Regions from separate parts of the Homo sapiens genome. Here region 1 is linked to region 2. Evidence: fine-mapped expression QTL. A gene starts in region 2. The other region holds a variant in brackets. All regions are shown on one strand. Distances are from middle to middle.

Region 1 (2,907 bases), 240 kb before region 2:
GTTACAGAATGGAGTTTGCTCCCTGTTCTTGAAGTAAAACACAGCAGAATTAAATGTATCTTCGTTTCAAATCTAGATCAATTTTTTTCCCTTATACGTAAGCCCTGATAATTTTTTCCCATGGACTTGAGGATCCTGAAAGCCTCAAAGGTGTATGCTGCTCAAACTCTAAGTTACCAGTAGCTTAAGAATGGCTATGGCACCCAGAGGAGGAAAGGTAGAGAAATGGCAGTCTCTACTTACAACCATTCCATTATTGATGGGCATTACACTGATTCCAGCTTTTCACTATTATGGCAAGAAAACATTGTTTTAGTTTGTTAGGGCTGCCGTAACAAACTACCACAAACCGAGTGGCTTAAACAGCGAAATGTATTGCCTCACAGTTCTGGAGGTTGGAAGTCCAAGACCAAGGTGGGCAGGGCTGGTTCCTTGTGAGGGTGTGAGGGAGAATCTGTTCCAGGCCTCTGTCCAGGGCTTGTGAATGGCTGTCTTCTCCCTGCCTTTTCACATGGTCTTTCCTCTGGCATGTTGGTCTCTGTGTCCAAATTTCCCCTTTTCATCAGGACACCATTATATTGGATTAAGACCCACTCTAATGACTTCATTTTAATTAGTTTTGTTTGTTTGCTCCATAAAGACTCTATTTCCAAATAAGGTCATATTGTGAGGTACTGGTGGCTGGGACTCCAACATCTTCTTTGGAGGCACACAATTCAACCCATAACAAATGTCATAAAAGAAGAAGGTGTTCGCCGATTCCTTTATTTATTTAGGAGGTGGGGGCAGGACGCGGAGTAAGTTTCCTATAGGGAAAGAGTTGAGAAGAGTCTGCAGGGACTGACCTAGAAAGCAGTGACACTCCGTAGTTGGAAAAAAGCAGAGCACATCTTTAAGTACCTGGTGTGAGTTTTGTAAGAAAACCTACCTTATGAATGAGTACAGTGGAATACTACTTAGTACATTCATACATGTTTCTACCATCTCAAGATTTTTATATATACAGTATATGATCTGTTTTTATAAATGTACAGCTTGAAAAAAGATCCTTCTTGTAGTAAGTACAGCATTTAAACACAAACCAATATGGGCCAGCCACATTCTAATTGAAGACCCAGAGAAAGCAAAGCCAGCAGCCCAGCCCCCAGCCCCCAGCCCCTGACCTGCTTGGCGGCCCTGATGGTCCCGGCAAAGTGTAAACCAGTGCCCCTCTGTCGCCCTGGGCTCAGCAGGCCAGCTTACCCTTGGCACGTACATGGGAAGTGCCTGCTCACGCTAAGCCCAGTCTGCAGAGGGCGGGTCCTCCCTGAAGGAAGGTGGCAGAGAGGAATGTGTCTATCAGGTAT[G/A]GACAAGAGAGATGAAAGAAATGTGCTCTTCAACTAAAGGCACTTGTCAGCGGCCACCTACAGCCATTCTCTAGGCCTGGTGAGCAAGCAGGGTGCTGTTTTGATAGAAGCCTACAAGGTCTGAGCAGACCTCACTTGTCCTCTCACCAGGTTTAAATACAATAAATAAATCTTAATGCATGGTGGTTTTGTCCTCCTGGGTTCCTATGAAGAGGCTACCTTTTAGGATCACTTATGGAGTGATACTCCCTGTCCCCAACCCAGCCTTTTCAGTGTCCTCCATGGGGAAGGTACCAGAATAGCTCCAGGCCTTGGAGAAGCAATTGCTCATTGTGGATTGTAAGGGGAGCCCCTAAATATCCCCTCCCCTGGTCTGTGCCTGGAGCTCCTCTGCCCCATGTGTCAGAGTCACGGGCACCTCAGATCTTGGTCACATAGTTGTTGGGGAACAGGCCCTGCTTGCCTCGTAGTCGACCCGTCCACCAGCCAGAAGGATCTGCAGGGAGAGAGAGGTGGTGGAAGTGAAGATGAGAAAGTCTGTTCTGCCCCAGCCACACACACTCCGCTCCCATGGGCTCAAGTGATTTGGCTCCATCCATGTTGTTTTCCCTTTGTTCTTTAAATCAAAAAGTTTGTTGAAAAAAGTAAGATATCTACCAAATTAATAAAGCACTCAGCCAAGCCCATGGACTGCTTTAATAATGGATATTCAAGGTTGTCTTCCTGGCTTCCACTCCATCCACTTTCATTATGAAGAAGCCAGGAAGTGTGGGTGGGACAGACCTCCCCGTTTCTGGGGACAGCCCCTACCAGGTCTCATCCTCTCAGGGTACAGCCTTTGTCTTGCTACTGAAGTTGGTTCAGGGATGGACACATGGCTAATTTGGTCTGATCAGAATAAAAGTCAGGACTTTTGTCCAATGACTAAGAACAGAAGTTTCAGAGATGATGCACATTTCAGACATGGTTTGATATGTTGGCCTGGAATTGCTGCTGCCGTTTTGCTACCATGAAGAAAAACAGCTTGACAAGGGAGGGAATATAAATAAGGGGGCAGAGCTGAAAGAAGCATTAAAAAAGCTGGTGTCTTGATCAGACTGAGCCTGAGGCCTGACCTGCCTCTACAAATTGCAGTTTGAGGAGCCCATAAATTCTTTTCATTTTCACACTAGATCTTACAGCAATGTGACTGCATGCTCTTTGGGAGGCTGTCCCAGCCAACCAGCCACACACTTACCTTCTTTGATAATATCAATAATGTCATTGGCATTAAAGCTGAGTTCGTCTGTGTCCTGAGCGTCATAGGCATACAAAGCCTTGCACTGTGGCACCTGAGGCTTGGGCTTGGGCTGGGGCTTGGGTCTGCCCCCTGCTGGGGGAGGCCGACTGGTTGTTTGTCTCCTGACCCTGTGGAGAGAGTGGAGCAGATGAGACTGGGCCCCAACAGGGGGCAGCAGCACCGAACGGTGGTTTGGAGCATGGCGGCCGGCACTGGCCTGTTCAAGTTCAAATCCAGCTCCATCCTTAGAAGACATGTGGCCCAGGGTGCAGTCTTTAAACT
Region 2 (2,907 bases):
GTTGGAATAGCAGAAAAGTCACAAGTCAAAGAGGCGGCCCCTTCCACACATTCCCAAAGTGCCAAAGGGAAAACAGCAACAAACTCGAAACTCGCGAGGGCGTCTTCCCGTGCGAAGCGTCCCCTGGATCCCCGAAAAGCCCCGATCCCCTCGCGCTTGGGAAGGGGTGGGGTCCTCTTCAGGAGGTGTTTACTTGGCGTCCGGGGCGCGGAGACCCTCGGGGCCGGCGCCCGGCACAGGTCCGGGGCGGCGTGGTTGCCGCCCGCGCCCGAGTCTCCCTGGCTCTTGACAGCCCGCCGGCCGCCAGGTGCTCGCCCTACCTGGCGCCCCCGCCTGCCTTTGTGCGGCCCGCGCCGCCCCTCGCCAAGGCGGGCCAGGGACCGCCCCCGCCCGCGTGCCGCTGCCAGGCGGGACAGCTGCGGGCGCTGCCGGGCAGCGGAGCGGCGGCGGGGAGGAGAGGGAGTCGGCGCGAGGGTGCCCGGGGCGGGGCGGGCACGGCCGCGGGGAGGGCAGGGGACGCCGCCAGCGGCTGCGGCGCGAGTCTCCGAGCACCTCCCCTGCCGGCTGCGCCCCCCACGTCCCAGCAGGAGGAGGGGACCCCCTCCCGCGCCGTGCCCCTCGCAGCCGATGCGCCCACACCCTGGCTTCCGACAGCTGGCAGCCATAGCAACCCGGCCACAGAAAGTTTCGCGACGCAGAAACCGACTTGGAATAAAGTTTTCCTTGGCCCCTCGCTCGCTCTCCCCCGGCCCGGGTTTACGGAAAGCGGCAGGAAATCAGAGCTCGCGACGTGCCGGCTCCCGCGTCCACCTTCTCCACCCCTGGCCCCGGCAGCGCGCCCAAGGTGGGTGCACCACGCCGGGGTTTCCTGCCCCGTCCCCGGGTCCGGCGTCCTAGGACGCGGCGCGGCCAACTCACCATGGTGACTCGCGCCGCGGTCGCGTCTTCGCCGGGTCCCGCTGCCGGGGAACTGGGGCTGGAACGCAGTCTTCTGGGCGAACTTCAAAAGTTGGTTCCCCTCGCCAAAAACAGGCTCCCGACACCCAAGCACTCACAGGAGCCAATGGGAACCCAGAGGGGACTCCATCCAGGCGGGATTGGCGGTGCTAGGTGAGGGCGAGACGGCGGCGACTTAGCAGGCGGGGCGCATGCTGCGGAGGGCAAGAGTCCACTCGTACTCGCCGGTCGCCGCCGGCCCAGGTGAGTCCGATGCGCTCGGAGCGTCCGCCTCGCTCCCCTGCCTCACTCCTCTTTCTTCGGCCACTTAATCCGTACTCCTCTGGCTGAGTCTCGGCTCGGGCCGGGCAATCTGTCCATAAATGGAGAACTCAGCTCAGGCCTGACCAATCAGGGTTTGTTTTCGTAGCGTCACTCCTCAGGGAAACCGTAGTAGCCAACAAGCTTGGAGCTGCTGGAGTTTCCAAAGATCTCTGGATCCTGTAGTCCTCCTCCCGCGCCAGCCACCGAAGAACGCTGCGGACCCAGCTCGCTCCTGGTAGCAAGACCCGAACTGTAAGGAACAAAACCCTCGTGAAAGAGGAGCAAACCTTTCACTTCGCTGCGTTTTAAGACGAAAGTTAGGGTGGGTTTCGCTTCCAAGTTGAAGGGGCATGATTTTCCCAGAACTTTTTTTTAAGAAGGAAATATTTTATCAGCATAAAACATCAGAGTCGTGGCAGCAGCCCAAAGGAAATCCTTTTTCTTTCCTACGTCTGGATTGTGAGCAAAGTCAAAAATATCATTTCCCCACCCCTCCTTTTACCTGAATTTCCTTGGAAAACAAAGGAAGACTTCCGGCTGCTTTTTCTTTTCTTTTTTCTGTTTTTCTTTTCTTTCTCTTTCCTTTCTTTCTTGTTTCTTTTTTGCACGTTTTGATGGCAGAAAAGTTGTTGCACGTGCAGTGGGCAGAGGGAAGGAGAGAGGAGAGATAGGTGGGAAGAAACCCCATCCAACCTCAGCCAACACATCTGCTGAAAACAATCAGAACTGTAAAAATGCATTATTCCAGACTGTCGAATATCCAAGGAGAAGATTGGGGTGGGGCGGGGTGGGGGGAAGCAGAATCTTAAAATCAAGGTAGGGAGTTTGATTTTATTGTTCTGGAGGCTGAGGAAGTAAATTTGGTGAGTCTTAACAGGCTGCCTTCCTGGAATCTGTAGAAGATAAAATTGGTAAACTTCAGGGCATAGAGAAACTATGAAGCATAATGATATTATGATACTTTCTGAAATTTGGTTGAGGCAGGGCGCTGTGGCTCACGCCTACAATCCCAGCACTTTGGGAGGCTGAGGTTGGTGGATCACGTGAGGTCAGGAGTTTGAGACCAGCCTGGCCACCAACACGGTGAAACCCCTTCTCTACTAAAAATACAAAAATTAGCCCGGCATGGTTATACATGCCTGTAATCTCAGCTACTCGGGAGGCTGAGGCACGAGAATCGTTTAAACAGGGGAGGCGGAGGTCGCAGGGAGCCGGGATCGTTCCACTCTACTCCAGCCTGGGCGACAGAGCAAGATTCTGTCAAAAAAAAAAAGAAGGAAAGAAAGAAAGAGAGAGAGAGAGAAGAAAGGAAGAAAGGAAAAAGAAATTTGGTTGTAGCTCTTCACTTGACTATCTGAGCATAGAGTTAGAAAGGGTATTAAACTTTATCTTGTCTAAAAGGGTAAACAAAATGTTACAACATGGATGAATCTCGAAAATATCGTGTTAAGCCAGGAGCAAAAGACCACATATTATATAATTCCATTTAAATGAAAGTTGAGGATAGGGAAATCTATAGAGATAAAAAGTAGGTTAGTGGTTTGCTAGGGGCTGGGGGAGAGGGGAGATGGAAGTAATTGCTAACAGGTATGCATTTTCCTATTGAAGTGATGAAAATATTCTGGAATTAGTGGTGATGATTGTACA

The links.
Region 1: its variant is fine-mapped to the expression of MYO1E in lung (TOPMed, PIP above 0.99). The same link has a PIP of 0.9 or more in whole blood.

What each region holds. Positions count from the first base shown.
Region 1 is chr15:59,135,615-59,138,521 of GRCh38, forward strand. MYO1E (myosin IE) reads right to left here. Exons shown (of 28, transcript NM_004998.4): 27 at 2,584-2,753; 28 at 1-1,842. The coding sequence ends at 1,766. Among named protein-coding and RNA genes, the nearest start is that of CCNB2, 32 kb to the left of the region's middle. RefSeq lists an enhancer at 2,596-2,890. The variant G/A (reference allele first, on the strand shown) is at 1,347.
Region 2 is chr15:59,371,580-59,374,486 of GRCh38, forward strand. MYO1E (myosin IE) reads right to left here and starts at 1,292. Exons shown (of 28, transcript NM_004998.4): 1 at 919-1,292. The coding sequence starts at 921. RefSeq lists a silencer at 237-556 and enhancers at 572-1,075, 1,076-1,580.